Linked DNA regions of Homo sapiens: all the other regions are linked to region 1. The links come from fine-mapping of genetic effects on gene expression. A gene starts in region 1. Each other region holds a variant in brackets. All regions are shown on one strand. Distances are from middle to middle.

Region 1 (8,110 bases):
AAGATACGAAAAAGTCCTAAAAGATAATTTAAAAGATGTTCATAAAAACGAACACCTTTAACAGTATCCAAGAAAATCCAAATGAAAAAAAATAAGATATTGTCTGTCATTTAAAGACTCAAGATAGTGTAAAAAAGAATGTGAGAAAAAATAATCCTCCTACGTTGGCCTTTTTTGGAGGGAGACTTGACCATGCTATTAATATTTTTTTAATTCTTTTTTTTTTTGAGACAGTCTCAACCTAGTCCCCCAGGTTGCAGTGCAATGGCGCGATCTCGGCTCACTGCAACCTCCACCTGCCGGGTTCAAGAGATTCTCTTGCCTTGGCCTCCTGAGTAGCAGGGATTACAGGTACCAGCCACCACGCCCAGCTAATTTTTGTGCTTTTAGTAGATACTGGGTTTCACCATGTTGGCCAGGCTGGTCTCAAACTTCTGACCTCAGGTGATCCGCCCGCCTCGGCCTCCCAAAGTGCTAGGATTACAGGCGTAAGCCACCTCGCCGGACCAATACTAGAAATTTTAACATGCATATTCCTTACTCAACAGTTCTATTTCTGGAAGGATAACCTAAAGAAAAAAAATCACACATGTGCTTTAAGTTGTAGGAACAGGATTTTTCGGAGCATAACTGATTTAAGAAAATTTTAAATGTGTTCATCAATGTGCAAACAGTTAAACAAGTTATGGTACACACAACAGCATACAATACAGTTGTTTTATTTTTATGTTTTTTTTTTTTTTTTTTTAGAGACAGTCTCACTCTAGCACCCAGGGCTCACTGCGGCCTTCATCTACCATGCTCAAGGGATTCTCCCACCTAGGGCTACGGGCACATACCATCCCACCGGGCTAACGTTTTTTCAATGATTTTTTGTAGAGACAGGGTCTTGCTACTTAGCCAGGTTTGTCTCAAACTCCTGGCCTCAGGGAATCGGATTCCTCCCACCTCAGCCTCCCAAAGTGCTGGGATTACACGCATGAGGCACCAAGCCCAGCCATAATACAGTTGTTTTAAATAAATAGTTGACTTAGATATGACAAAATTTCTAAGTGAAAAATCAAATCACAGAACACTGAAGAGAGTTTCATCCTACACGGAGATGGGATACATGCACACACACAGACACGCTAAACAGACACACACGTAAACTGTTGAGATTCTCTCTGAAGAGGGGCATGTCAGAAGTCACAACAAGAATATATGGCTGGGTACAGTGGCTCATGTCTGTAATCCCAGCACTTTGGGAGGCTAAGGCGGAACTGTTGGAAGCCAGGAGTTCAAGACCTGCCTGGGCAACACAGCAAGACCCCACCTAATTTTTTTTTTTTTTTTGAGTCTCGCTCTGTTGCCCAGGCTGAAGTGCAGTGGCGCGATCTGGGCTCACTGCAAGATCTGCCTCCCGGGTTTACGCCATTCTTCTGCCTCAGCCTCCCAAGTAGCTGGGACTACAGGTGCCCGCCGCTACGACCGGCTAATTTTTTGTTATTTTTTTTAGTAGAGGCGGGGTTTCACCGTGTTAGCCAGGATAGTCTCCATCTCCTGACCTCGTGATCCGCCCGCCTCGGCCTCCCAAAGTGCTGGGATTACAGGCGTGAGCCACTGCGCCTGGCCTAATTTTTTTTAATGGAAAAAAAAAATAATATGAATGGATCACTAAAAGTTGTGGGTTTTTTTTTTTTTTAATGATTGTGAAAAAAGTTTTCTCATACTCACTTTTCCCCTCCCACCTGCACTCTTCCAATTGCGCTCTTCATGTTGCAGCCACTGGATTTTTGGCAACCACAAATCTGATCCCTGTTCTAAAATCTTTAATGGCCCTGGTCCTAGATGCAGCTCCTCCTACTTGCCTGACCCATCTGTCAGCCTACTCCCCTCTGTTTGCTCTGCTCTTGTACTCTTGCTGCTCGGCCGGAGAGTCTTTTTAATTCTGGACCATTTTTCATTAGCTGTTCCACCTTTCTGGATTGCTCTTTTTCCAGTTGACCTCTCTTCCACCCGCTCCCATTTCACTGGACTAACTTCAGACTTATAGTTGAAATGTCTTATTCTCAGAAAAGCAATCTCAGACTTGTGAGTCTAAATTCGACATCTCTTTCAGTACTCTTAGCCTTTTCTTTATAACAAAGAAATTGTAATTAAATATCTGTTAATTATTATCTTTTTTACTGACTACTTCCCCCACTCACACACAAGGACAAAGACTTCGTCTGGCTTGTTCACTACTTTGGCCCAACAGCTGGCTTAACCCGCATCTCGCCTGACACACTAGAATGACACAGTGGAATTTTTGGATGGTAGGTTTATGTGGCTTCCAAAAAACAGTAGTTTCTACTCTAGTTCCTAACTAGAAGGATTTCCTTTAGAATCATAAAATGCAAATTTAAGCAATCCTATCAGAAGTTGGTTAAAAAAAGTACCCAAAACCCAAAAGTTAGTCATGAAATATGTATACTCTTACATGACTGGTGGCCACAATATGGTTGGTTAATTGCTTTTTGATAAAGCAATATAACATACAGCAAATGCCATTTAAGGTAACACTATATTTTGTCCCAGTATTCCCAATAAAGAAAATGCAAGCGAGTAATTCAACAGCAGTTACGCATATCGTTTTCGAATAATGTTAACCTATTTTCTAAAGCCTGCACAGCATATTACATGCACAAATAATCCAACAAGGTTAACTAGAGCTCAGCAACGGGTTATGTTAGAAACTGAGTTAATGCAGTTGTGGGTTACATTACAAATGTACACGGTTATGGGAATTTTCCCCGTAATTCTTTAAAAACTTTTAATATTAGTCTAAAATATTGCCAAACGTTTTAAGAGTTGGGTCTCGCTCTTAGGTAGAATTCGAGTAACCACAGACACAATTAACATTTACACACCAAAGAACCCATCATTAGCACGACAACCGTCCCGGGTGGGGGCGGGGCGGGACCTTCAGACCTCGTCTTTCATGGGAACACACCTGCCTCTCCTTTCCCAAGAGACTGAAGTTTTTCTCAAATACAGGTTAGCTCGAAAAGTCCACCAAGACAGTGACACAAACTCAGTTCGTTTTTCCCCTTCCCTTGCGACTTTTGTCTCTCCCGCTGGACGGCAGCCCAGCGGACCAGCGAGGGGTACCCGCGGCTCGGGGAGCGCGTCCGCTCGGCAAACATTAACCCGGCTGCCCCGGGCCCTCCGCCCCGGCCCGTCGCGCGGTATCGACCGAAACTCGGCGGCCCTGCCTCATTGGCCGCCGCCGCCCCTCCCTCCGGCGGGATTAATGCCCTGCCGGCCCGACGAGAGAGGGGCCGGCCGCCCTAGGGTCTGGGTGCGGCCCCCGCCCGCCTCCCCGGGGACAAGGCCGCTACCGCAGGCGCGGGCGAGGAAGGGTCCACTCGGCTAGGAGCGCAGCGGACTGTACTGCGGCGCCGCCGCCGGGCCTCGCGCTTACCTGAGCTGGGGACGGCGCAGCCCCGGCGACCAGAGCGGGGAAGAGCCGAGCAAGGCTGAGAAAGGGGCGGCTCCTCGGTAGACGCCGAGAAATGGCGCCCACAACGAGCCCACCGGCTCTAATCCCCGGAGGACCCCGACCTCCCGCCCGTCCACCCCTTAAAGCTCCCTCCCAGCTCCGCCCCCAGGGCGGAGCGCTCCGCTCTTAAACGGGCGATGACACCGCCCCGGAAATTGGCCGGCGCGGCGACTGGAGAGAAACCGGCGAGGCCGGGCCCGGCCGGGCTGGAACTAGCGCCAGCAGCCGGGCGTCCGCGGCTGGTTTAAAGGGGCGCTGCCGAAACCCAGTTCCCGCTGCGGCCCTCCGCCCGCGGAGGAGGCGCCCGTCCGCAGACAGACCCCAGTTAGTCCTATCACGAAGGAGGCTGGTGGAGCTGGCTGCTAGATTCATTCATCCATTCGTTCAAGAGATTAAATCCTTCGCAAATACTTATTGAGAGCCTGTCACGTATTTCCTCCCTTTTTCTCCTTTGTAGGGATTAAAATACATTTAAATCTCTGCTGTTAAAGTGACTTTCACTCTACTGGGGAAACAGTAAACAAATAGGTGTCACAAGGTGATTAAGTGTAAATGAGGAAAAATAAAACTGGGAAAGAGAAATAAAAGATTACTGCTTAGCAGAGTGTGGTCAGGAGGGTACTCTAACAAGGTGACATTCAGTCCGTTCATTCTACAGGTAATTGATTGAAGTGCCTACTTACTGTGAGTTCTGTGTTCTAGACACGAGATACGACAGACAACCAAGACAGACAAAAATCCTTCCCGGAGTTTACGTTATAGCAGGAATATAAACGAGACATAAAATAAACGAGATAAATTAGTGAAATTAAATACTGTCAGACATTGGTAAATGCTAAAAAGAAAAGTACAAGTAGGGAATAACCACAGGCAGTGAGGGTTTGCGATTTTACATAGCAGGTCACAATAAGAAGGTGGCATTTGGCTGGGCGCGGTGGCTCACTCCTGTAATCCCAACACTTTGGGAGGCCGAGGCGGGCGGATCACGAGGTCAGGAGATCGAGACCAGCCTGGCCAACACTGTGAAACTCCGTCTCCACTAAAAATACAAAAATTAGCTGAGCCTGGTGGCGTCCGACTGTAGTCCCAGCTACTCAGGAGGCTGAGGCAGGGGAATCGCTCGAACCCGGGAGGCGGAAGTTGCAGTGAGCCCAGATCACGCCACTGCACTCCAGCCTGGCGACAAAGCCAGACTCAGTCTCAAAAAAAAAAAAAAAGGTAGCATTTGAATGAAGACCTAGAGGAGGTGTGGGAGGAACCCTGTGGCCATCTGGGGAGAACCGAAGGGAACAGCAAGGGCAAAAGGCCCTGCAAGGGGACAGGTCTGTCTTTTCAAGGAAGTCCAGTGTGGCTAGAAGTGAGGAAGCAAGAGGAAGAGGAGGTGACAGTCAGAGAGGAAAGGGGTAAGATGTAGGGCCTTGTGGGCCCTGGCTAGAGCTCTGAGAGAGGTGGGGGAGCCACTGGAAGGTGTTACCTTGAGGACCCTCTGCTTGCTGAAATGAAAAGAGACAAATACTCATTGAGCTTCTTCTCGGGATTTGGCACTGCCCACTCCTCCACCACCCCAAAACGTAGTAGACAGGCTTGGCAGCTCATCTCTGCCCCATGTGGTGTTGGCTGGGCAGCTCAACAGGTGCTGGAGCTGCCAAGGTGGTTTCACTGGTCTGTGTGGCATCTCCGCTGGGGTGGCTGCAAAGAACAGCTGAGTTCTGCCTGGGCTACTCTCTTGCAGATCCGCTGGTGTGGCAAAACAGTGAAAACAGAAGCTCTGAGGCCTATGAAGGGCTATGCCCAGCAGTCACGGAGCGTCCCTTCTGCTGCCTGTTAATGGTTTAAGCAAATCACAGAGGCCGCCCAGTTTCAAGGAGATGAAAGAGACTCTACCTCTTTTTTTTTCTTTAAATATTATTAAAATAGAGAAATTTTCCTTCTCCACCTTTTAAAAACATCTTTATTGAGATATAATGCACCCACTTAAAGTGTACACTTCCATGGCTTTGGGTATTTTCACAGAGTTGTAGAACCACAAACCACAATCTAATTGTGGAATATTTTCATCACTCTTCATGAGAGGAGCAGCATGGGTGTTCAGGGATGGGAGGAATTGTTGCTGGTCATCTTGCATCTTTATCTCAACAAAAAAACGAAATGATATGGCAGGGGGAAGCAGCAATGGTATAGATGAAACAAGAATGGGCCATAAACTGAGGCTGGGTGATGGGGACGTTAAACTATTCTATCTAAAATTTTTCATAATAAAGTCCTTTAGACCGAATGTGGTGGCTCATGCCTGTAATCCCAGCACTTTGGGAGGCCGAGGCAGGAGGATCACTTGAGGTCAGGAGTTCGAGACCAGCCTGACCAACATGGTAAAACCCCGTCTCTACTAAAAATACAAAAATTAACTGGGTGTGATGGCACATGCTTGTAATCCCAGCTACTAGGGAGGCTGAGGCAGGAGAATCTTTTGAACTCAGGAGGTGGAGGTTGCAGTGAGCTGAGATTGCACCATTGCACTCCAGCCTGGACGACAGAGACTCTGTCTGAAAAAAAAAAAAAGAGTATTTAAAAAAATACCACCTGGACACCTGTAATCCCAGCATTTTGGAAGGCCAAGGCTCAAGAGTTCTAGCTCAGGAATTCGAGATTGGCCTGAGCAACATGGTGAAAACCGTCCCAGCTACTCAGGAGGCTGAGGCAGGAGAATCGCGTGAATTCAGGAGGCGGAGGTTTCAGTGAGCTGCTTTCTCTGCACTGCACTCCAGCCTGGGCAATGCGAGTGAAACTCTGTCTAAAAACAAAACAAAACAAAAAACAACAAACAAACCCACCTGGGCCAGGTACCCCGAAAAGCATTCCTTCTTCCCAGGGGTCTGATTAGCCAGTTGGAAAACTGCAGGGTCTTCAGTGCCATCCCCTCAGCCTGTCCAGACTGTCTCTTTCCATGTTTACCTGATGTTTACTCATTTGAAAAGTTCTGGTTTATCTGATTACAGATCAGAAATGGAAGTGAATTCTGTCAATACTTATAAACATATCTTATTCTCCTAAATTGTTGAAAAGCATACCAGTTTTGAAAAACAGTGTCCTCTTCATCCATCCTGCTCAATCTTTTTTTCTATCTCCTATCAAAGATGGAACTGGGGCTGGGCACGGTGGCTCATGCCTGTAATCCCAGCACTTTGGGAGGCCGAGGCGGGTAGATCACCTGAGGTCGGGAGTTCGAGACCAGCCTGACCAATAAGGTGAAACCCTATCTCTTCTAAAAATACAAAAATTAGCCAGGCGTGCCAGTGTGTGCCTGTAGTCCCAGCTACTCGGGAGGCTGAAGCAGGAGAATCACTTGAACCCAGGAGGCGGAGGTTGCAATGAGCTGAGATGGCGCCACTGCACTCCAGGCTGAGTGACAGACCAAGACTCCATCTCCAGAAAAAAAAAAGGTGGAACTGAAGGAGGCTGTGGATGAGGTTAGAGAAATCTGTTGAGAAAGATGGTTATAGGCTAAAGGAAATATGAAGACTTGAGGAAAGGAGGATGAAACTTAAGGGCCCAAGTCATAGAAAGTTGTTCATGTTCTAATTATGTGAAATTATTCCTAATAACAAATCATTGTCTCCCCAGATCCTCTCTTCTAGACATAGGGACCCTCTGTAACACACGTTTCGTGATAAATTCACCAGAAAATTGACTTCTGCCAGAGACAGAGAAAGCCCTCTCCTTAAATATAGCTGTATCAAGGAAAAATGCATTTGGCTGGAAGTAATGGGAAATTTTAACTGTTATTTGAAAAATAAGGAGTTTATTTTTCTCACATAAGTAATCTAGAGGTAGGCAGCTATTAGTACTGGTTCTGCTCCTCAACAATGCTGTAAGGATCCTAAACCCCTTTACCATTTCTGCTTTGCCACCCTTAGCATGTTGACCTTGGTTTTCATGCTTCTAGCATACTGGCCACAGGACGGATGCTTATCTCCAGCTTTCTTGAGTTTCAGGAATAAAAGGGAAGGGGAAAAAGACCTTTACCTGAAGCCTTGTCTTTTAATTCAGAGAAGAAAGTACCAGCACCCCCTGTCTCCGGCCAGAACTACACTACCTGCCCTAACTCAGACCAATTAAAGGCCATAGGGAAAGAGAATACCATGACTGGCTTAGACCAGTCAGGATTCACCCTTGGGAGCTGGAGACCAAGGGCTCTCCTTAACTTTCTGAACAAATCCAAATTCTATTAGCCTCAAAGAGAGAATGTTGCTGAGACAAATAACTGTGGGTAGCTATAGAAGGTGCCTACCAGCCTGGCACGGCGGCTCACGCCTGTAATCCCAGCACTTTGGGAGGCCGAGGTGGGTGGATCACGAGGTCAGGAGATTGAGACCAGCCTGGCCAACATGGTGAAACCCCGTCTCTACTAAAAAAATACAAAAATTAGCTGGGCGTGGTAGTGGGCGCCTGTAATCCCAGCTACTTGGTAGGCTGAGGTAGGAGAATCGATTGAACACCAGAGGTGGAGGTGCAGTGAGCCGAGATCGCGCCACTGCACTCCAGCCTGGCAACAGAGTGAGACTCCTCTCAAAAAAAAAAAAAAAGAAG
Region 2 (8,110 bases), 44 kb before region 1:
ATATATAACCTTTTGATACTGGCTTTATTTCCTATTCAGCATAATGCCCTCTGAAATCCATCCAAGTTGGTGTGTATCAATAGTTTTTTCTTTTTATTGCTGAGTAGTATTACATGGTATGATTGTGCCACTGTTTAATCATTCACTTACTGTAGGACACTGTGGTTGTTTCAAGTTTTTTGCTACTACAAATAAAGATGCTATGAACAATCATGCTCAGGTTTTTGTGTGGAAGTAAGTCTTCATCTCTCTGGGATAAATGGTCAGGCATACAACTGATTAGTCATATGGTTTAAGTATATGTTTAGTTTTAAAAGAAACTGCCAGATTATCTTCCAGAGTAGCGATATCACTTTACAATCCCAACAACAATGTATAAGAGATCCCATTTCTGCACATTCTCACCAAAATTTGGAGTTGTCACCATGTTGTACTTTAGCTGTTTTGATAGATGTGTAGTGAAAACATCTCACTGAGGTCTTAATTGGCACTTCCCTGATGGCTAGTCTAACATCTTTTCATGAATTTGTCATCTGTATATCCTCTCAGGTGAAATGTCTCTTCATGTCTTTTGTTCATTTTTGAATTAGACTGTTTGCTTTCTAATTGTTGAGCTGAGGAGCTTGTTTTGTTTTGTTTTTGGTTGAGACACGGTTTCGCTCTGTCGCCCAGGTTTGAGGTGCAGTGGCTGTCACACTCACAGCAGCCTCCACCTCCCAGGCTTAAGCAATCCTCCTGCCCAGCCTCCCAAGTAGCCACAGCAGCAGACTTTTTTTGTTTTTTTTTGTAGAGACAAGGTCTCACTATGTTGTCCAGGCTAGTCTTGAACTCCTGAGCTCAAGTGATCCTCTTGCCTTGGCCTCCCAAAGTGATGAGATTAGAGGCGTGAGCCACTGCGCCCAGCTAGGCATTGTGTATATATGCTAGACACGAGTTCCTGGTCAGATGTGTGATATACGAATACTTTCTCCCAGTCTGTAGCTTAGCTTCTCGTTCTATTAACAGAGTCTTTCCCAAAGCAAAAGTTTTTAATTTTTTATGAAGTCCATTTTATCTTTTTTTTAAAAATCATCCTTTTGGTATCATGTTTACTAGTAACTCTTCTCTAAACTCTAGGTCCCACAGATTTTCTCCTGTTTATTTGTCTCTAAGTTTCATAGTTTTATATTTTATATTCAGGCTCATTATCCATTTTGAGTTAATTTTTGTATAGGTATAAGGTTTAGGTCAAGGTTTTTCTGTCTTACAGATATCCAGCTGCTCCAGCACTTTTTTTAGTTTGTTTGTTTTTCCTTCTTCCACAGGTTCTAATCCAGCACCATTATTAAGACTATTCTTCCACTGAATTACTTTGGCACCTTTGACAAAAATCAGAGGTCATATTTGTGTATGGCTATTTCTTTCCATTGATCTACATGTCTGTCGCTTTGCCAATACCACAAAGTCTTGATTATGAAAGCTATATAGTAAGTCTTGAAATTGGGTAGCATGATTCCTCCCATTTTATTCCCCTTTTTTAAAATTACTTTAGCCATTCTAGTAGTCCTCTGTCTTTCCATATAAATTTTAGAATAATCTTACCTATATCTACAAAAGATCTTACTGGAATTTTGAGAAAAACTGCATTAAACCTGTATATCAATTTGGGGAGAACTGGTATCTTTGTTGAGTCTTCCATTCAATGTAGAATGTCTTTCCATTTACTTTTATCTTCTTTGATTTCTCCATCAGCCACGCTATTTTTAAAAATATGTTTAACAACTTTTTAAAAATAGACAATTTAGCCTTGAAATCTGGATTTCAGCTTTTCTTGAAATACCTGAAGATCCAGCAATGCTGGTACAACAAACCTATTTAACAGCAAATGCCTGGAGCTAGGTGGTAGTTGCCATATACTGTCTTTTGCAGGTAAATGTAAAATGCTTCCCACTTCACCACATCCCCTCCACCAATCCTTTTTGATCCTCTACAGTCTGCTGGATATCAGCTATGATTTATCATCACGCTATCTATATTTCTCTGTCTCTATCCCTATCAAAAATGAGAAAAGGGCTGGGCACAGTGGCCCACACCTGTAATCCCAACACCTTAGAGGGCCAAGGCAAGAGGATCACTTGAGGCCAGGAGTTCCAGAACAGCCTGGGCAGTCTCTACAAAATTATTATTTTTTAAATTAGCCAGGCATGGTGGTGCACACCTGTAGTCCTACCTACTTGGGAGGCTGAGGTGGGTGGATCACTTGAGCCCAGGGGATCAAGGCTACAGTGAGCTCTGATCATGCCACTGCACTCCAGCCTGGGCAGACACAGACAGCAAAACCCTGCTTCTTTTATTTAAAAATAAAATAAAATGAAGGAAAATACAAAACATAACAAGTATGTAGCAAGATTTTTTTTTAAATGAGAGAAACCATATTTCTTCTTGGAGTAAATAACCATGCAAAATCTTTAATGTGCACACCAACCTGCTTCCCTTCTTTTGCTCTCCTGCCTGGTCCATGTAAACATGTGATTTTAAGACTGAAAATTGTTCCTTCAAAATGTATCAAATGTGTTCTCCAGGAAATCGGTACAGTTAACTCTCCAATTATTTTGCAAAGTCTTATTGTACCAACCTAAAACCACTCAATATCAAAATTAAAAATATATTACTTCTACTGTGGAAAGTCCTGTATACAAGAAACTACCCAAAATTGTCACTTTTTTAACCACTAATATTGGCAGTGCTCCTGTCATGGGTGGCTTTGCTACATGTACTATTTTTATGACAGCAAAAAAAAAGTGTTTCCCTAAGCCTTCATCAAGAAAGAATATATTACCATAAAAATATCTGTTTAGTTATACAATGAGATTTAATAACAAAGTTGTACCAACAGCAAAAAAAAAAAAAGAGATTATAAATGTTTGACGGCGTAACTGTCTTAAAGATTTAAACAGAAAAACTCACAGATTTATACCATTATCCATCTTCCCTTAAGCTATAGGTTATTCATTTGCTAAAGAAGGGTTACTAAATTGGAGAATTCATAGTTGGGCTTGGGGGATATCTGAATTACTATGTACAGACAAAACGTTATGTGTATGTGCATTTTTCTAGGGTAAGTCCACAGATTTCATAACTCTAAGTTTAAGATCATCACTGGACTATATAAAAGGATATTAAATTACATTTAGATTTTAAAATAGACGATGGGGTAGTATTCTGCAGTCCACTAAAACAACGATGACCATATATTCTGGTTTACCAGAATAATACTGGCAGCTTATGCCTACTATCCCAATCCCTCATTCATTAAGTACCCCTTTTACTCTCTAAAGTGGCCTTTAGAGAAAACACAGCCAGACGTGGTAGCTCACACTTGTAATCCCAGCACTTTGCGAGGCTGAAGAGGATCACTTGCATCCAGGAGATCAAGACCAGTCTGGGCAACATGGTGAGCCCCCATCTCTACAAAAAAATAAAGAATTAGCCAGGCGTGGTGGGTGCCTATAGCCCCCACTACTCAGGAGGCTGACATGGGAGGATCCCTTGAGCCTGGGAGGTTGAGGCCGCAGTGAGCTGTGATGGCGTCACTACACTCCAGCCTGGGTGACAAAGTGAGACCCTGTCTCAAAATGGAAAGAAAAGAAAATCTGAATACACCTGTAACAAGTAAAGGAATGAGTCAATAATCAAAAACTTCTCACAAACAAAAGCCCAGAACCAGATGGTTTCAATGACAAATTCTACCAAATGTTGAAAGAATTAACACTAATCCTTCACAAGATTTTCCAAAAAAATACAAGAGGGGGGATGGTTTTCCCACCTCGTCTACAAGACCAGCATTACACCCAAACCAGAAAAAAAAAAAAAGTCACAAGAAAACTACAGACTAATATCCTTTATGAATATAGTACCAAAATAATCATCAAATACTGGCAAACCAATGGTCAGGTGTGGTGGCTCACACCTGTAATCCCAACACTTTGGGAGGCTGAGGCAAAAGGATCGCTTGCATACAGGAGTTCAAGACCAGCCTGGACAACATGGCGAAATCCCATCTCTACTAAAAATACAAAAACTAGCCGGGCACAGTGGTGCATGCCTGTCATCCCAGCTCCTTGGGAGGCTGAGGCAGGAGAATCGCTTGAACCAGGAGGCAGATGTTGCAGTGAGCTGAGATCACGCCACTGCACTCCAACCTGGGCAACAAAGCGAGACTCCATCTCAAAAAAAAAAAAGACTATAAACCATGACTAAGTGGGATTTATCCCAAAAATTCAAGGTTGGTTCAACATTAAAAAAAAAAAATCAACATAACATACCATATAAACAGATTTTTTAAAAACTTCACATCATCCTCTCAATAAATGCAGAAAAAGCAATTGACAAAACCCAACGACCTTTCATTATGAAAGCATCAACGAACTAGGAATAGAAAAGACCTTCCCTCAATCTGATTAAGGGCATCTATAAAATTCCCACACCATACTTGATGGTAGAAGACTGAACATTTTCCCCACTAAGATCAGGAATATGTCAAGGGTGTCCACTCCCACTGCTTCTATTCAACATTTTATTGAAGGTTCTAGCCAGGGCACTGAGGAAAGAAAAGGAAAGAAAAAAACACAAGACATCCAGATTCTAAAGGAAGACATAAAACCATCTTTTTGCAGATGACATGATCTTATACATAAAAACACATTAAAACTAATAAACACGTTCAGCAAGACTACAGGATACAAAATAAATACACAAAAATCAGTTGCAGTTCTATATGCTAACAATGAACAATCCAAAAATGAAATTATAAAAACAATTCCATTTAAAATAGTACCAAAGGAATAAAATGCTTAGGAATAAATTTAACCAAGGAAGTGAGACTTCTATAAACTTAAACTATAAAACATTGTTTTAAAAAATTAAAAACCTAGGGAGGCTGAGGCAGGAGAATGGCGTGAACCCGGGAGGCAGAGGTTCCAGTGAGCCGAGATCACACCACTGCACTCCAGCCTGGTTGACAGAGCAAGACTCTGTCTCAAAAAAAAAAAAAAAAAAAAAAAAA[T/AT]TAAAAACCTAATACAGAGAAAGACATTCCATGTTCATGGATCAGAAGACTACATTGTTAAAATGGCAATATTCCCCAAATTGATATACAGATTCAGTGCAATCCCTACCAAAATTCCAACTGCCTTTTTTGCATAAATGGATAAGCTGACCCTAAGATTTATACGGAAATGCAAGGGACTCAGAATAACCAAAAGAATACTGAAAAAAGAAGACAGCTGGAGAACTCACACTTCCCAATTTTAAGACTTACTACAAAGTTACCATAATCAAGACACTGTGGTACTGGCATAAGGATCAACATAAAGATCAATGGAACAGGCCGGGCATGGTGGCTCACGCCTATAATTCCAGCACTTTGGGAGGCCGAGGCAGGCGGATTGCCTGAGGTCGAGTTTGGGACCAGCCTGCCAACATGAACAAACCCCATCTCTGCTAAAGGTGCAAAATTAGCTGGGCATGGTGGTGCATGCCTGTAGTCCCAGCTGCTTGGGAGGCTGAGGCAGGAGAATCACTTGGACCCGGGAGGCAGAGGTCGTGGTGGGCCAAGTTCGCATGATTGCACTCCAGCCTGGGCAACAAAAGTGAAACTCCGTCTCAAAAAAAAAAAAAAAAAAGTGTATATATGTATGTATCAATGGAACAGAAGAGGGAATCCAGAAATAAACCCACATATCTATAGTCTATAGTAAATAGATTTCCAACAAGCATGCAACAAGACCCTTCAAGTCATTTTAACAAGTGGTGTTAGGATCACTGGATATTCACATGCTAAAGAATGAAGGTGGACCCCAACTTCATAGCATATACAAAAATTAACTCTAAATGAATCAGATGCCTGTTGTCCCAGGTACTTCGGAGGCTGAGGCAGGAGAACTGCTCGAACCGGGAGGCGGAGTTGCAGTGAGCCGAAATTGCACCACTGCACTCCAGCCTGGTGACTGGAGTGAGAAGAGTGAGACTCTTTCTCAAAAAAAAAAAAAACTTTTAGAAGAAAACGTGTAAATCTTTATGACCTCAGAATAGGCAATCGTTTGATAGATATAACACAAACAGCATAAGCAACCAAAGTAGGTAAACTGGATTTCATCACAATGTAAAACTTTTGTCAAAGGACACTATCAAGAAAGTGAAAAGTAGGGGAAAAAAGTTTGCAGATGTATCTGACTAGGGCTGAGTACCCAGAAAATACAAAGAACTCTTACAACTCAACAGCAGAAAAGCAAATAACACACTTTAAAAAATCAGGCAAAGGATCTGAATAGACATTTCTCCAAAGAAGATACACAAACGGCAAACAAGCACATGAAAAGATGCTCAACATCATTAGTCATTAGGGAAATGCAAATCGAAACCACAATGAGACACCATTTCATACCAACTAGGATGGCTAAACAAAAAGAAGGGGAAATCACAAGTTGGCAAGGATGTGGAGAAACAGGAATCCTCATACACTGCTGGTAGGGAGTGTGGAATGGTGCCATCACTGGAAAAGTTTGGCACAAGCAATCCTCCTACCTGAGCCTCCCAAGTAGCTGGAACTACAGGCACACACCACCGCACCTGGCTAATTTTTGTATATTGTAGAGACAAGTGTTTTGCCAAGTTGCCCAGGCTGGTCTCGAACTCCTGGGCTCAAGCAATCCACCCATCTCAGCCTCCCCAAGTGTTTGGATTACAGACCACCATGCCCAGCCTTCAGAGCAGCATTATTCATAACAGCCAAATAGTAGAAATACTCCAAATGTCCATCAATGGATGAGTAAATAAAATGTGATATATTCATACAATAGAATATTATTCAGCAATAAAAAGGAATCAACCACTAAGATATGCTACAACACGGATGAACCATGAAAACATTATGCTAAGTACATTTCCAGATTCCAAAGGCCACCTATTACATGATTCCATTCAAATGAAATTTTCAAAATAGGCAATCCATAGACAGCGTTTGCCAGATGCTGTGGGGAGGGGTAAATGGGAAATGACTGGTAACGTGTAAGAGGGTTTCTTTGGGGGTGATGAAAATGTTCTGGAATTAGTGATGATGGCTGAACAATTCTAAATATACTGAAAACTCTGAATTGTACAATCTAAAATGGTGAACTTTATGGTATGTAAATTGTCTTTTTTTTAAGTGGCCTACTTTACAGAAAAAATGACATCGTCATGCTAACTAAAACCAACTCCTTCTTTTACTTAAGCATGCCTTCTCTCTTCTCTTTAAGCTTCCTACTCCAAACCAAATCTCTGAGGTAATAACTCTTCAATACAACTGTCAAAGGAGTGCTTTACGTTCCACTGTGTATTTGTAAGGTGACAAGTTTCACAATCCTTTCCTTTTTCCAAATAATTCAGTCCATCCAAGATCAAAGAAACAGCAAAAAATAAAAATAAAAAATAATAACTCAGTCCAGAAATAATTAGGTTGTCTGAGCAAGACCAGCATGTACACAGGGAGAGGCTAGAGACTGGTTCCACACATGCTGAGTGATCAATATAGTAAATCTACTGGTGATAATCATAGCCTGGTTTCTATAGAAGAGAACTACAAATATGGAAAGAGAAAAAAAACTACAAGAAGCCCTGTAGTGTTAGACTGGAATTTCAATTATTTATGGGTGTTGAAGTTATGGTATTCATGGTATTCGAGAGAGAGATATGGAGAAATAAACATAAACACATATTCCCTAAATCTGGTCACAAGACTCATTGGAGAACTGGCTAATTCCAGGGCTGGAGTAGGGCACTGCAAGATGAACATGGCATACCTTCATAAGCCAGAAAGTAAGGCAGAGCTCAAAGAATGAAGGGGCCATGTCAAATGAACATAGAAGCCATCTTGAAGCAGCTCCCATTGACCATACGTGGGAAAATTTGAGCAACAAATTAAATGATAGTAACAGATATAACCCATTGAATTAAAACAGGAATCTATTAGTTCATAAATAAATAGAAAGTTTGATGAGGAAAAGTCTCAACATAACTGCCCACAAAATAGTTAATGACAAAGGGAAAAAAGAATAACTTCATAGTGGTGAGGCCTAGCAGACACCATCTTAAT
Region 3 (8,110 bases), 97 kb before region 1:
AGGAAGGAATAATTGATAGTAACTGCTAATAGGAAAGAGGTTTCTTTTGGGGATAAAAATGTTACGGAATTAAATAGTGGTGATGGTTGTACACCTTTGTGAATAAACTAAACCCACTGAATTATACACTTAAATTTTTTTAAACGTAGTTACACATAATATTATTAATCTGTGGCTTTGGTAATGTCTTAGTTCATATCCATCTCTCAAGAATGTATAAAGAAATATGTAAAGACATTCTTTCTTCTACCTATTTCCTTACTTTTCATGGACACTTGCCTGTGTAAACTGAAGCAGTTTTCCTTGTCTCCTTCCATAATTTGGAGTAATTTATTGTTAAAGTTGTGAATGATAGCTAAGAAAAGCAATGTTACCCTCACTCCCATTTTCTGAAAGCCTGTTTATCTAGTTAGGTTCTTGCATGTGTGCGTGCACTTACTAATATATACATGATTTGGTTGCTTTCACAAAAATGGGAACAAACCTCAGACACTTAAGTTTTAAACTCAACAGTGTCACTGATATCCTCTAGTAAAAGTACATGAAAACTGACCTGATTCTTTAACAATTACATAGAATGGAGGCAGCATATTTTTATAATACAATCCAGTCTTCCACCAATTGGAATTCATTCTTCACACTGCCCCCTAAAATAGAATTATTACATTCCTTTTTACTCTCTACAATCTGGACCCCAACAACCTTTACAGAGTTATGGAGGCAGTACAGTAGCCAAGGCTGGGTTCTAGGACTAAGCTGTCTTGAGTTTGAAGCCCAGCCTCATTGTTCTGTGCCTTCATTTCTTCACTAGCCTGAATACCTTATAGATCCTCATAAGGATTAAATGAGGATGCTTTGCTAGAGTGAATACTTACTGCTGTACCTCCAGAACAATGTCTGGCACAGAAGCACTCAAGTATTAGCTATTATTATCACGATACCTTCCCATAAATTCTATACTCTTTACTCAAACCTGATTCATCATTCCTGGACTACACCTTGCACTTAGCTACTTTAGAATTTTCTTTTCCTATAGGTCCCTGGGCCCGTAATGATTTATCCATTCAAAGCTCCTTTCTGTTTCACTGGAAACCTGATGCAAATGCCAAGAAGCCTTCTTAACTTCAACCACTTCTACTCTTCTTGCTTGCTGGATTTAGCACTTTATCAGTTATTTGTAAAACTGTTTATCTCCACAGTTTGAGTATAAATTTCTTGAAGCCAAGAACAGTATTTTGACTATTTCTGCATCACCAGATGTGCCAAGACATGCTTGGTATTCATTGATTCAATCAAATAATATATATGGAGTGTCTGAGGATACAGAAGGAAACAAAATAAATGCTCTCCCTTAACGGAGCGTACATTCTGTTGAAAAACGGACACTCTGACTTACCCAATAGGGTTATGTCCTGAGAAACCCATCGTAAGTCAAAAATGCACTTAATACTCTCATAAACCCATCATAAAGTTGAAAAATCCTAAGAATCATCATAAGGGACTATCTGTATAGAGAGGACAAACAAACACATACTAAGATGAAAGGAGTGAGAAAAAATAAAGCAGGGTAAGGCAGACAGGAAATAAAAAGAAGACTGGGCAGGGGGCGGGGAACATGATTATTTCAGAGTGGTCAGGAAAGGCTTCTCCAATAAGAAACCTGATGGTGCCGGAATGAACCATAAGAGATTGAAGGGAGGAATACTCAGGAAGCAGTAAAAGTACAAAGATCCTGAGAGAACATGCTTGGTATGTTTGAGCAAGTATAAGAAGATGAGTCTTTGGATGTAAGCAAGGTCAGGATTGATAGAAGATAAAGGGAGGAAAAAGCATGTTTCTATCAATGTGAGGATCTGAGGTTTTACTCCGAGACAAGGACGCTGGCAGGTGTAAGCAGAGAAATGACATGATCTGCTGTTATCACTACAGCTGCTGAAAGGAGTACCAGACAGTAGAGGAGCAAGGGCAATGGCAAGGAGGCCAGGTAAGAGGGCAGGGCTGACAACAAATGGAAACAGGATGGGAGCAGTAAAGATGGTAACAAGCAGTAGACCTGGATACATTTTGAAGACAGAACTGACAGAATTTACTGATTCTGAAAGAAATCTGGAGTGTGAGACAAAGAGGAGTCAAGATGACTATAAGGTGCTCTGGTCTAAGTCAGTGCTTCTCAAACTTCAGTATGCATCAGAATCTCCAGGAGGGCATGTGAAACAGATTGCTGGACCTCACTTCCAGTGTTTCTGATTCAGCAGGTCTAAAGTAGAGCCCAAGACACGCTTAGCAACACGAAAAAGAGAACTGCCACTTACGAAGCTACAAAAACCACAAAGATGGGAAAAACTGCAGGGGTCAGGAGATATATTTGTCCAATTTTGAACATATTAAATTCGGGATGCCCAATATCACTTCTGCAGTATTTTCTCCCAAATCCGTGGCCTCAAACTAATCATGTGAAAATACCACACAAACCCAAATCAAGAAATATTCCACAAGGCATCTGGCCAACCATGAAAAACATGGAATGGCTGTCACAGGCTGAAGGGGACTAAATGTAACATGGGATCTCGGGTCAGATCCTGGAAAATTTGTGGAAAGACTAGTGAAACCTGAGTAAGGTCCAGTTTAGTTTGTGGTATTGTACCAATGTTAATTTCTTAGGTTTTGTGAAACAAACAAAATCTAAGAAATTAACATTGGTACAAGTTATGGAATGTATGTGGAGTGTTAACAACAGGGGGCCAGGAGCGGTGGCTCACACCTGTAATCCCAGCACTTTGGGAGGCCAAGGCGGGCAGATCAGGATCATTTGAGGCCAGGGGTTTGAGACCAGCCTGGCCAACATGGTGAAGCCCCGTTTCTACTAAAAAATACAAAAATTAGCTGGGCATGGTGGCGCACTCCTGTAGTCCCAGCTACTCCGGAAGCTGAGGCTGGAGAATTGCTGAAACCCAGGAGGCGGAGGCTGCAGTAAGCAGAGATTGCATCATTGCACTCCAGCCTCGGCAAGAGTGAGACTTGGTCTCAAAAAAAAAAAAAAAAAAATAGGGGAAGGTAGGGCAGGAGGGTGTGGGAATTTCTGTACTATCCCTGAAACTGTTCTGTAAGCTGAACATTACCTCAAAATAAAGAATATTTAAAATGAGATGCCTATATTAGATGCCTAAGTAGAGATGTCAGATAGGCAGTTGGATATGTAAGTGTGGAAATTTAAAAGTTCAGGGTGATGATATAAACTGAGAAATTGCCAGTGTGTATAGATAGCATTTAAAACCATAATGCTGGATGATATTACAAAGGGAATAAATTGTTACGGGAAAGTTCCTTAAACAGAGTTTAGGGGTTGGAGAGATAAGTAGGCATTAGCAAAGGGGATTAAAAACAATGGCTTGTTAGAAGACAATGGCGTGTTAGAAGGGAGGTTAGAAGACAATAAAAAATAGTGACATCTCTAAGCTAGGTGATGACAATTTCGTGAAGTGAGCGATTTCTGAATGCTAATTAAGCTGACTAAAAGATGGACTGTGGGATTAGAAATATGCAGGTCATTTGTGATCTAATAAAGCTATTTTGGTGGAGTAGTAGCATAACACTATTAACTCAAGGCAGAGCCTTTATATGGATTAAAACAATGCTCCTCTGAAAAGACACATCCAATTTGCAAAATTGTCAAATACACTAATCTTTTCGGAACAAGACACTTAGTGCCATCTGCTGGAAAATCACTGTCATAAATTATGTGAACATCATTCTCCTAAATGTGGCACTCTTGTACAGTATGCAATCTGCACAATCATACCCAGTCCTCTGTGTCAGGGACAATGTTTGATTAGAATGGGTTCAAGAGATTAAGAGAAAGAAGAGATAGCAAGTATAGACAATTCTTACAAAGCAAACAGTTTTGCTACCTGTGAAACAAAAAAATGGAGGAATTGCCAAAAGAGGTAGATTCAAGGGAGTTCTTTTTTAAATGATGTGAGCTATCTTAGGAAGTTTTTGTTCTGATGAGAATACTTCAGTAGAAAGGGAAAACCGATGCAGTAGAACAAAAC[G/A]GAGGATTGCTCAAATGATGGTCTTGAGTAACTTGAGGTGAGGATCTAAATGACTAGTGAGGACCTGGGCCTTAGAGTATGGATGGTTCACCTAGAGTAACAGCAGGGAAAGCAAGGAACAAATTCCCAAATGCAGGTAAGTTCACTGATAAAATGGTGGGAGTACAGAGAAGACCTCTTCTGATTGCTTATGTTTTCAATAAAGTAGGAAGCAAGGTCATCAGCTGAGAACAGAGTAGGAAGGGAGGAAGTGGTTTGTAAGAGGAGGAAGTGGTTTGTAAGAGGAGAAAGTCAGCCCAGCATTGTAGGAGAACAAATAGATTAAGGAAATGTAATATGGTATCAGGGAGCATTGAAGGCTCACTTGAGCTTAGTGGTCAAAATTTAAAGACCACTCAAAAATTTTGTGTGTATTTCACATTCACCAGCTATATGCAGAGTATACAGAGTTGGATTTAACCAGATGCATACAACAGGAAGAGGGTCAAGAAATTCAAGGGTATGTGGAAAGGCATAATGATAAGTGGCTGTGTATAAAGAAGACCCAATGAGGTACTCTGGTAGGTGTCCAACAAATAAGATGAATCAAAAAAAGAGATATCAATACAAGACTCCTGAAATCTTTCACTGCAACAAATGCCCCAGGCCTCCTTACCAAATGTGGATGACTCAGACTGATATTCAATGCCTTTACTACTCAAATATTTTAATGTTATTATTCCAACATGATTGTGAAATTTCAAAGTGATAACCTGGATATTCCAGAGAACCCAATCTTCCCAGGTCTTTCTAATTATCCAAGAGTTTTGCTGATGATGTCCCCAGAAAGATTTAATGCGAGTTATTAAACACAGGTCTTATCTCCAAACTTCTACAGTTTATAATTAAATAATTCCTGAAGCTATTGGTGGGGCTACAAATACAGTTTTGTAATAAGAAACTCTTCTCTGTTAATGGGTATAAATTCCAGTGGTATTTTGCATCCTCTAATGTTTTCCACAATTTATCTGAATACTCCTCTAACTAGTTCCACAAGGTAAATCAAGCCAGCAATCATCTTCCTATTATCATAACCTTTTATTTTTCATTTTTTAACTCTACCCCTAATAATTTAAAATATTTTGCATTTATTATTATCAATGATTAGTCATGTCTGTAGATGCGAGCTTTATTAAGGAATCTGCAATTTCTTACAAATCTTAATCATACACTGGATCTCAATTCTTTATTAAAAGTAGTTAAAAACAAAACAAATAAAACTTCCTTCAACAACAAAAAATGAGCTACAGCTGTCAAACCTGTTTTTATGAGGAGGTACATTATTACACCATTAAGGAAGTCTTCAGTCACAATCCTTGGAAAACACTGTTCTCTGAATCAGATATCTCTTTTCCATGCCAATATAAACACAATGCTGGCCAGCTGTCAGGAACAAAATGTAAAATGTTCACTCAAGCACCACCACCTAGAACTGAGGCCACAGCTTGTAACACAGAAGCTTAGGTAATTATCTAATAATAATAAAATTGTGACAACAATTCCTTCAGGAAGAACAGGAACAATTGTTTGTCTACTTCAGTATAAAAATAACAATAAAAAAGCCAAAGTTATTTTCCTTTCACCAATTTCTTTTAAAATTTTCTCTTCTCTTCACTCATTCTTTTAACAAAGACACTATGTATTTCCCTTCTCACCAGCCCAAAGTGCTCAAAGCAACTAAAGTGCATTACTACATTAGCAATTGTCAGGAATTGATGAAAGAAATGAAGTTCCTTGACATATTTTACACTGAAAGTGACATGCTTCATGTCCTAATTTCTACACCACCAAGGTTAACGTTAATGGAACAAGATTCCATTCTCACAATGTTTTCATGTGACTAAAGTAAAAAATTGTATGAACAGAGGATGAGAAATGTTTATGTTCTGCAAAAGGGGGTTAGAGGAAGACTACCATATCTAAATCCACGATTCATAGTATCTAGAAAGGATCTGACAAATCACATTTTATACATGGGGGTAGGGGAAGAGGCTGGCATGGAGAAGGAAGGAGAGAAAGTTGTTTCCCCACCGCAGAATTATCTCCAAATCCTAGCCCTTATGTAAAAGCATCTCACATACAAGCATTCACAACAATCCTGGAAAGCAAGATATAACTGATGATGTGGTATAACACATATTAAAATTCAGGAAGGAAGAATGTGGTGGGAAAGAGAGAAAACGTTATTGAGACAAGATGATTTTGTTTTAGCAAATCCATAAGTCCTAATACCAATCATAAAAAATAGTAACTGTAATATTTTCAAACCAATATTCAAAGACTAACACTAAAATAACAGCCTCTCAAAGCAATGAACCATGGTTTAGAAATGAAGAGTGTGCCCTGACCAAAGACAGTACCATGGCTCAAACAACTATAGCTCCCACCACTGGGGCACGATGAACTAATAGGGGACAACCACCTTCAAACTTGTTCAGTTTACATTAGTAAATAAAAAGATCCAACCTGGCGATGTACCTTTTGAACAGTGAACAACAATGAAAAGAAATTTTTAAAAAAAGATCCAACCAAGTGTTATAAATAACATTTTTTGGCCAACACTTTAAATAAACTCCCCTCCAAAAAAAAAAAGATGATTTGAATTATACTGGTATTACAATATTAGTGTTTGTATACTAGGTGCTTTTCAAAACAGACATATTATACACATAGTAGGACAAATAAAATTTATTTTTCTCTGTAAATTCATTTAAAAGTATGTTATCTATGATTATCCTATCAAGGTCAGAAATGTTAGATCTTACTCCAAGATAGGTAAACGCCTTTGAAACGCAACAAAAAGAGACGATGATCTTATGAGCTCATTTATGTTCATGCGTGAAAGTGTGAAGGTCACTAGCTTTGCTGTGTTTCTACAAGTTTCCTTGACTGTAAAAACAGTCAAAATGTAACCAACCTAATTCAAGATGTTAAATTAATTAAGTTAAATAAAATTAGCCAAAGCACTGTAAATTAAATGACATAATACTTAAGTTCTGTACTGATGACACCCTTTGATCAAAAGGATGGTGACCCAGTAAGGTGCTTCTGGAGGTTATTACTTCTCTAATTCCGAATTTATCATCACTGACTCTTTAGGCATAATAAAATGTAGAGTGTAAATAGGTTGGTGACAATTTATTTAATTTAGGTTGAGCTACTTATAAATACCTGAGAGCTCTGGAAACAACATATATATCCATCTTGCAAATATCAGTAAAAAGAACAAGTATTTGCAATATTTGATATGAAATTCTGAAGCATATGGGAACTTCTATAAAATAGACAAGTTTAATTTTACTACCATCCAGCCTTAGCCCTTTACTTTCCTCACCCCTATCGCTGCCTCCATCCCTAACACCCCTCCAATCCAGTTTCTCTCATCAGGAATTCGCAAATCAATTCTTTACAACAAGGTTTTCAACAAAAGAAAAATCATGAGGTGAATCTTCCCTTAAATGTAACAGTACTGATTAACTCAAATTATAAATACAGAAATGGCCACTTTCAATATGAACTGAAGATCTTACTCTTCAATTACAATCTGCTAAGATATATATGGGGCATTATATGAGCATGTCCTGCAGATTAAGAATAATTTTAAAGTGAGTGAAGTCAAATCTTACAACTTCATTGTGCCTCTTTGGTTTTTACTATAGAAACAGTACTTTTTTTAATGATATACATACCCATGAAACCTTTTCTTGAATGGCACAACCCAGAGCTTCTGTGCTTAAAATGTTATAATCCAAATTCCTCTCTTTTAAGAAAAAAAATCAGCCATGACAATACTTAGCAATTATCATCTGAGCTATGTAAAGTCTAAAACAACTATAAGGGCCATACATTAGTGGCCATTTTTAAGCTTGCTAAACGATGATGGGCTTAAAGAGGTGGGAGCCGGGCTATTTAAGATACAGATCTATTTATATTTAGAGGATGTGCTAAATACTTTGAGTGGCCATCCTCTTACACATAATTATACTAAACTCAGATTGAAACCTGCCTACAAATTTCAT
Region 4 (8,110 bases), 140 kb before region 1:
TTAAAAATAAGATCTTAAAATCAATAACCTAACTTTACACCTTAAGGAACTAGAAAAACAAAGAACTTAAGAAAAACTTAAATCCAAAAGTTAGTCCACTGAAAGATCAACAAGATTGACAAATATTTAGCTAGACTTATGAGGAAGAAAAGATTCAACTAATATCAGAAATTAAAAAGGGTGAAACCTCTCAGTAAAAAACAAATAAAAAGGATTTGAAGAAAATACTATGAGCAATTTACTCCAGTAAATTAAATCACCTAGGTGAAATGCAAACATTCCTGAAAACAAATTACCAAAACTGACTTAAGACGAAATGGAAAATCTGAATAGACTTACAACAAGTAAAGAGATTGAATCAGTAATCAAAAACTTTCCAACAAAGAAAAGCCCAGGACCATAGCTTCACTGGTGAATTCTACCAAATATTTAAAGAATTAACAATAATCCTTCTCAATCTCTTCCAAAACACAGCAGAAGAAGGAACACTTCCTAAATCATGCTATGAGGCCAACACTATTGCCCTGTCACCAAAGTCAAATAAAGACATTGTAAGAAAATTACAAACCAGCCAGGCATGGTGGCTCACAGCTATAATCCCCAGCAATTTGGGAGGCTGAGGTAGAAGTACTGCTTAAGGCCAGGAGTTGGAGAAACCTACAGACCAATATCCCTGATGAATATATATACAAAAGTCCTAAAAAAAATGTTATCAAACTGCATCGAGAAGAATATTAAAAAGCTTATATAACATGACCAAGTAGGATTTGTTCTAGAAGTTCACAAGAGTGGTTCAACATCAGAAAACCACACCATATTAACAGAAAGAAGGAAAAAATCTCAATTGATGAGCATCTCAACTGATGCAGAAAAAGCATATAACAAAAATGCAACACTTTTTCATGATAAAAACAAACAGAATAGAATGGAATTTCCACAGTATGGTAAAGGGCATATATGAAAAACATACACACAACACTCAATGGTGAAAGACTGAAAGCTTTCCCTTTATCCCTTTCAGGAATAAAATAAGAATGTCAGTTTTTGTCTCTTCTGTTCAACACTGTACTGGAAGTTCTAGCCAAAGCAATCAGGTAAGAAAAAGAAATAAAAACTTCCCAACTGGAAATAAGGAAGTAAAACTATCGCTATTCACAGATGCCATAATCATGTATATAGAAAATCTTATAGAATGCAGAAAAAACCAGCTGGGTGTGGTGGCTCACACTTGTCATCTCAGCACTTTGGGAGGCCGAGGCGGGCCGATTACCTGAGATCAGGAGTTCAAGATTAGCCTGGCCAACATGGTAAAACCCCATCTCTACTAAAAATACAAAAATTAGCTGGGCATGGTGGCAGGTGCCTGTAATCCCAGCTACTCAGGAGGGTGAGGCAGGAGAATCGCTTGAACCCAGGAGGCAGAGGCTGCAGTGAACCAAAATCGCGCCATTGCATTCCAGCCTGGGTGACAAGAGCAAGACTCCGTCTTTAAAAAAAAAAAAAAAAAAAAAAGGGCCAGACGCAGTGGCTCCTGCCTGTAATCCCAGCACTTTGGGAGGCCGAGGTGGGTGGATCATGAGGTCAGTGGTGTTTTGTAGTTTTCAGTGTACAAGTCTTTTGCCTCCTTGGTTAAATTGTTTCCTAGGTTTTTAAATCTTTTATGCTGTTGTAACATAGTTGTTAATTTTGTTTTCAAACTGTTCACTGCTAGTGTATAGAAATACAACTGATTTTTGTGTATTTATCTTGTATTCTGCAACTGTGCTGAGTTTATTAGATCTAATAGGTTTTTTTCTGCATTATTATTATTATTATTATTTTTTGAGATGGAGTCTCGCTCCGTCGCCCAGGCTGGAGTGCAGTGGCGTGATCTCGGCTCACTGCAAGCTCCGCCTCCCAGGTTCACGCCATTCTCCTGCCTTAGCCTCCCGAGTAGCTGGGACTACAGGCACCCGGCTAATTTTTTGTATTTTGAGTAGAGACAGGGTTTCACTGTGTTAGCCAGGGTGGTCTCGAACTCCTGGGCTCAAGCAATACTCCCACATCAGCCTGGATTACAGGCATAAGCCACCATGCCCAGCTGAAAAAATTAACTGAAAATAGACAGAAGATCTAAATATGTTTCCTATACTGGAAGTTCTAGCCAAAGCTATGCAACTGTTAATCATTATGATCTTGAATTTCACAATGGTTTCTTATATAAAACACTAAAAGCACAGACAACCTAAGAAAAGTAGATAAATTAGACTTCGTCAAAACAAAGAATTTTTATGCATCAAAAGGCTGATCACTAAGAAAGTGAAAAGACAATCCACAGAATGGGAAAAAATATTTTCAAATCATGTATTCGGTAAGAGTCTAGTATTAAGAATTGATATTCAATCAAGGACTCCTACAATTCAACAATAAAGTAAACCCAATTTAAAAATGGGTAATCTGTCATGGGATTAGAAAAAAAAAAGAAATAAAAATAAATGGGGTGGGCAGGCACAGTAGGTCACACCTGTAATCCCAACACTTTTTAGGGCCAAGGTAAGAGGATTGCCTGAGGCTAGGAGCTTGAGACCAGTCTGAGCAACTTAGTGAGACCCCATCTCTAAAAAAATAAAATAAAATAAACTTTTTTTTTTTAAATTAGCTGGGCAGGGTGGTGTGTGCCTGTAATCCTAGCTACTCAGAGGGCTGAGGCAGGAGGATCACTTAAGCCCAGGAGTTCAAGGTTACAGTGAGCTATGATTGTGCCACTGCATTCCAGCCTGGGTGATTGAGCAATAATGTCTCTAAAAAATAAGAAAATAAAATAAAAAATGAGCAAAGGACTTGAATAGACATTTATCCAAAGAAGTTACACGAATGGCCAACAAACACATGAAAAAATCCCCAACATTCTTAATCATTAGAGAAATGCAAATCAAAAGTACACTGAGGCTGGGTGTGGTGGCTCCCACCTGTAATTTCAGCACTTTGGAAGGCTGGGATGGGAGGCTCGCTTGAGCTCAGGAGTTCGAAGACCAGCCTGGGCAACACAGTGACACCTTGTCTCTCCCAGAAATGAAAAAAAACTTAGCCGAGCATGGTGGCATGTGCCTGTAGTCCCTGCTACTAAGGAAGCTCAGGTGGGAGGATCGTTTGAGCCTAAGTTTGAGGCTGCAATGAGTTGTGCTTGTGCCACTGCACTCCAACCTGGGTGACAGAGCAAGACCCTGTCTCAAAAAAAAAAAAAAAAAAAAGTACAGTGAAATACCATGAGAGTGTAAAGAAATAAAAACCCTCACTCATTACTGGGAGAAATAGAAAATGGTGCAGTGGTTGTAGAAAACAGTT[T/G]GGCAGTTCCTTAAAAGGTTAAAAGCAGAATTACCGTATGACTCCGGAATTCTACTCTAGATGTGTAACTGAAAAACAGGTGTTCAAACACAAAATTGTACATGACTATTCATAGCTGCAATATTCCTAACAGTCAAAAGGTGGAAACAATCTAAATGTCTATCAACAGATGAATAAACAAACTGTGGTATATCCATACAATGAAATATTATACAGCCATAAAAGGAAATAAAGTCCTGATACATAATAGTACAGTATGGATGACCCTGGAAACATTATGCTAAGTGAAAGAAGCCAGACACAAAAGACCTCATATTACAGAGTATCATTTATATGAAATGTCCAGATAGGTAAATCTATAGAGACAGAAAGTAGAAAAGTACTTCCTCAGGGTTAGGGGAAAGGCAGTGCAGGGTAGATGGGGTTACAGTTAAAGAGCAGGGGATTTCTTTTTGAGGTGACGAAAATATTCTGAAATTTGTTACTGATGGTGGTTGTATGTACTAAATACAGAATGTACTAAATGTACAAAAATGTACCAAAAACTATTGAATTGCACACTTTAAATGGATGAATTGTGTGGTATTTGAATCAAATTTATCAATGAAGCTGTTACTACAAAAATAAATGATCTGAATAGACATTTCTCCAAATAGACATACACGAAAGGATGTTCAACATCATTAGTCCTTAGGTAAATGCAAATCAAACCACAATGAGATGAGACACACTTTATACTCACTAGGATGAGTATAATAAACAAGGAGAATAATAAGCACTGTCAATGACACGGAGAAATTGGAATCCTCATACATTGCTGGTAAGAATGAAAAATGTTACGGCCATTTTGGAAGACATTTGGCAGTTCTTAAGAAAGTTAAATATAGAGTTACCATATGACTGAGGAGAAATGGTGTTACTCCTAGGTATATACTAAGGAGAACTGAAAGTATATTTACAAAAAAAAATTTGTATGCAAATATTCACGTCTAGCTTTGTTCACAATAGCTAAAGAGTGGAAACAATTCAAATGTCCATCAACTGATATATGGATAAATAAATGTTGTATATCTATATAATGAAATATTATTTAGCCATAAGGAGGGACAAAGTACCAACATATGCTACAATATGGACAAATCTGGAAAATATTACGTTGAATGTAAGAAGCCAGACACAAAAGGACACGTATAATTCCATTGACATAAACTGTCCAGAGTAGGTAAATCCACAGAGACAAAGTAGATTAGTGGTTGCCAGGTGCTGGGCAAGAAGCAGAATATGGAGTGACTGCTAATGGGTAAAGTGTTTGCAGACTTTAGGTAAGGTAGAAACCTTCATACTCACTATAATACTCATCCTAGTGAGTATGAAGACCTTAGGTAAGGTAGAATGAGGATGAGTATATATGAGAACTAGGATGAGTATTATAGTGAGTATGAAGGTTTCTACCTTACCTAAGGTCTGGAAAGGGTAAGGAGTGAGGGTAAGGAGTTTCTAGACCTATGGTGTTTCTAGAACATTCTCAAACAATGTTCTAGAATTTATTATAGTGGTAATGGTTGCACAATTTTGTAAAATTACTGAATTGTGTATTTTTAAAGAGTGAATTTTGTGGTATGTGAATTATGTCAGTAAAAAAAAGAAAGAAAAATGATCTAAATCTATTATGGTAAAATGTTAAGATGTGACAAAGCTTGATATTTGGTATACAGGTATACTATATACAGTATATTATATACTTCTCCATAGTGTCTCTGTGCCTAAAATACTGCATTTTCAAAAAGGAGGTACAGTAAAACAGAACAGTGTTGTATAGCATGGGGAAAATAGATTAAAAGAGAAGGAAAAGATCTAGAAATACACCCATGTTTATATAAGAACCTAGTATATTTCAAAGGATGCATTTGAAATCCTAGGGGAAAAATAGATTCTTCAAAATATGAACAGGCATTTAGAAAAATAAATCTGCATGTATGCTCTAGGCTCTTTCCAGCTTCAAGAGTTCAATGAAACTTCTGATGAACATTGGGCAGTCCTGTTCCCATTACCCTTCTCCTGGCAAACAAAAAATTTTATTCTGAAAGACTTCAATAATAACAATAGTACTAAAAATGTTATTACTAACAGTGGTTATCAGAATTTTCTTTCCTTTTTTTTTTTTTTTTTTTTTTGAGACAGAGTTTCGCTCTGTTGCCCACGCTGGAGTGCAGTGGCACGATCACGGCTCACTGCAACCTCTGCCTCCTGGGTTCAAGCAATTCTCCTGTCTTGGCCTCCCCAGTAGCTGGGATTACAGGCGTGCGCCACCATGCCCAGCTAATTTTCGTATTTTTAGTAGAGACGGGTTTCACCATGTTGGCTAGGCTGGTCTTGAATTCATGACCTCAGGCGATCCAAAGTGCTGGGACTACAGGCGTGAGCCACCACGGCCTGGCCCCTTAGAAAAAAAACCAGGGTCTCACTCTGTCACTCAGAATGAAGCGCAGTGGTGCGATCATAGCTCACTGCAGCCTCAAACTCCTGGGCTCACGAGATTGTCCCTCTTCAGTCTTTTGAGGAGCTAGGCCTACAGCGTGGATCACCATGCTCGGCTAATTTTTTATTTTTAATTGTAGAGACAGGATCTCACTATCTTGCCCAGGCTAGTCTCAAACTGCTGGCCTCAAGTGATCCTCCTGCCTTGACCTCTGAAAGTGCTGGGATTACAGGTCTGAGACACCGTGCCTGGCAATTAGCATTAGTTACAAGGTCAAGTTGTAATTCTAGCTTTACCCTGATCACCAATTAGTACTTTTGCTGAGTACTAACTATTATAATATAAAGTGCTATACACTATGCATACTATGTGTGGTGCCATGTTGACTGCGGTATCTGGAACTGAATATGATTAATCACAATCATATTCCTTGACTGAATCAGTTTTGAACAGTAAAAAAAGAAACAGCATTTATTTGCTCAACATTTTTTAACACTAAGCACAGAACATTAGATTCACAGTGGTGAAGAAAGTCAATGGCCATAAAGCATGGAATAAAAGCCTAACTAACAAGACAAATAAATGCCAAAATACTCATTAAAGGGAGCAAGGGCAGAAGAGACTTGGAGGGAGCAGCAAAGAAAGTTAACTACATTACTGTGAGAACCCATGGCAAGTAAGTTGATAAGAACAAGGCCATTGTGATAACAGGATGACATGAAAGTTTACTGTAAGAGAATAATACACACTCCTTACCAGGTGACTGAAAAGATCACACATATCTTTAAGACGGTTTCTGCTCTGTTGGTTCGAATCAGTTGAAGATAAATGGGAATGTTGGGAGACTAATTAGGAACATCTTCAAATAATATAAAACTAGGTACTAAGTGGTCTGTAATGGATACAATAGAGTGAATTCAAGCTATCTTTCAGACAGACATCCTGAAACCATGTGGTGACAGACTGAGAAGAAAAAAAAGACAAAGATAGATAAGAACATCAATTTAATTCAGTCTACCCAGAACTGTACCTGTTTGTGGCAGCATCCTGAACATTGGCATTTTTATGACTTAATAAGCTATCTTCTTTTGTAACCTAAGAAAATGAAATATTAAAAAAAGTAAATCTTTATTGAGGATACTAAAGTAACAAGAAATTTACATTTCTTTCTGGTAACAACAGAAATATCAGTTTGCTTTAATTAAAATAAGAGGTAATCATACCTTATCTATGGAAATACCAGCAGTGTACCTAGTACAATCTTACCCCATACCTAAATTAATAATCAAAGATTCCTTTTTTTATTTGGTATACAAATTCACACAATCTTACTAGATGGTTCTCAATAATGCACCCATTTTTTATTTTTTTTTTGAGATTGAGTCTCACTCTGTCCCCCAGGCTGGAGTGCAGTGGTACAATCTCAGCTCACTGCAACCTCTGCCTCCCAGGTTCAAGTGATTCTCCTGCCTCAGCCTCCCGAGTAGCTGGGATTACAGGTATGTGCCACCACACCTGGCTAATTTTTGTATTTTTAGTAGAGACATGGTTTCACCATGTAGGTCAGTCAATCTTGAACTCTCCTGATGTCAAGTAATCCACCTGCCTGGGCCTCCCAAGGTGGTGGGATTACAGGCATGAGGCACCGCACCTGGCATCAATAATGCACCAATTTTTTTTAAAGTACAGTTTAATAAATTTTTTTAAAGGCATACAAGTGTTTAGCCAACATCATGTAACATTTCTACTATCTCCCCCACTCCCCGCCTCAATATTCCCTTGAGGCTTCCCACATAATCCCATGAAAAAACCCTTATTTGAGGTAAATGATGATCTATACTTTACACAGTTTCATATAATTGGAATCACAGTACCTATCCTTTCCATCTGCTTCTTTAGAGCAGCATGGAGATGTCTTTGAGATTCACTCATGTTGTTGTACAAATCACTAATTTATTCCTTTTTATTCAGACATTTCATTGTATAGATACATCACAATCATCTGTTTTTAGCTATTTCATATAAAGCTGCTAGGAACATTCATGTACTAACATCTGTGTTAACCTGAGTTTTGATTTCTCTTGGGCAAATATCTAAGAATGTAATTGCGGGTTAGATGATATGTGTATGTCTGATGCATTGCCAAACTCTTTTAAAGTGTTTATACAATTTTATGTTCTTACCAGCAATGTATGTGCACCACAGGAGCTCTATCATCACCAGCACAGGGATGGTCAGTGTTTAATTTTAGCTATTTCAGTGGATGTGGCTTTCATCATTAATTATGATGTTGTAGATTTTGTTCAT

Alleles and levels. Positions count from the first base shown, and alleles are read on the strand shown. Sizes are in standard deviations (SD) of each study's normalised expression. Not every link is listed here.
In carriers of allele T in region 2, the expression in skeletal muscle of the gene that starts at base 3,579 in region 1 tends to be higher than with AT alone (large effect, 0.81 SD a copy in FUSION).

Evidence for each region. PIP is the estimated chance that this variant, and not a neighbour inherited with it, causes the effect.
Region 2: its variant is fine-mapped to the expression of EPB41L5 in skeletal muscle (FUSION, PIP 0.95).
Region 3: its variant is fine-mapped to the expression of EPB41L5 in whole blood (TOPMed, PIP 0.98).
Region 4: its variant is fine-mapped to the expression of EPB41L5 in whole blood (TOPMed, PIP above 0.99).

The regions. Positions count from the first base shown.
Region 1 is chr2:120,008,546-120,016,655 of GRCh38, reverse strand. It overlaps EPB41L5 (erythrocyte membrane protein band 4.1 like 5), which reads right to left and starts at 3,579. Exons shown (of 25, transcript NM_020909.4): 1 at 3,446-3,579. LOC107985817 (a long non-coding RNA gene) reads right to left here. Exons shown (of 4, transcript XR_001739205.2): 2 at 6,355-6,509; 3 at 4,998-5,016; 4 at 3,952-4,263. RefSeq lists a silencer at 3,234-3,403.
Region 2 is chr2:120,052,416-120,060,525 of GRCh38, reverse strand. The region is part of intron 3 of EPB41L5 (erythrocyte membrane protein band 4.1 like 5); the gene reads right to left. Among named protein-coding and RNA genes, the nearest start is that of EPB41L5, 43 kb to the right of the region's middle. The variant T/AT (reference allele first, on the strand shown) is at 5,045.
Region 3 is chr2:120,105,571-120,113,680 of GRCh38, reverse strand. The region is part of intron 16 of EPB41L5 (erythrocyte membrane protein band 4.1 like 5); the gene reads right to left. Among named protein-coding and RNA genes, the nearest start is that of EPB41L5, 97 kb to the right of the region's middle. The variant G/A (reference allele first, on the strand shown) is at 4,053.
Region 4 is chr2:120,145,013-120,153,122 of GRCh38, reverse strand. It overlaps EPB41L5 (erythrocyte membrane protein band 4.1 like 5), which reads right to left. Exons shown (of 25, transcript NM_020909.4): 20 at 6,834-6,898. Among named protein-coding and RNA genes, the nearest start is that of TMEM185B, 74 kb to the left of the region's middle. The variant T/G (reference allele first, on the strand shown) is at 3,325.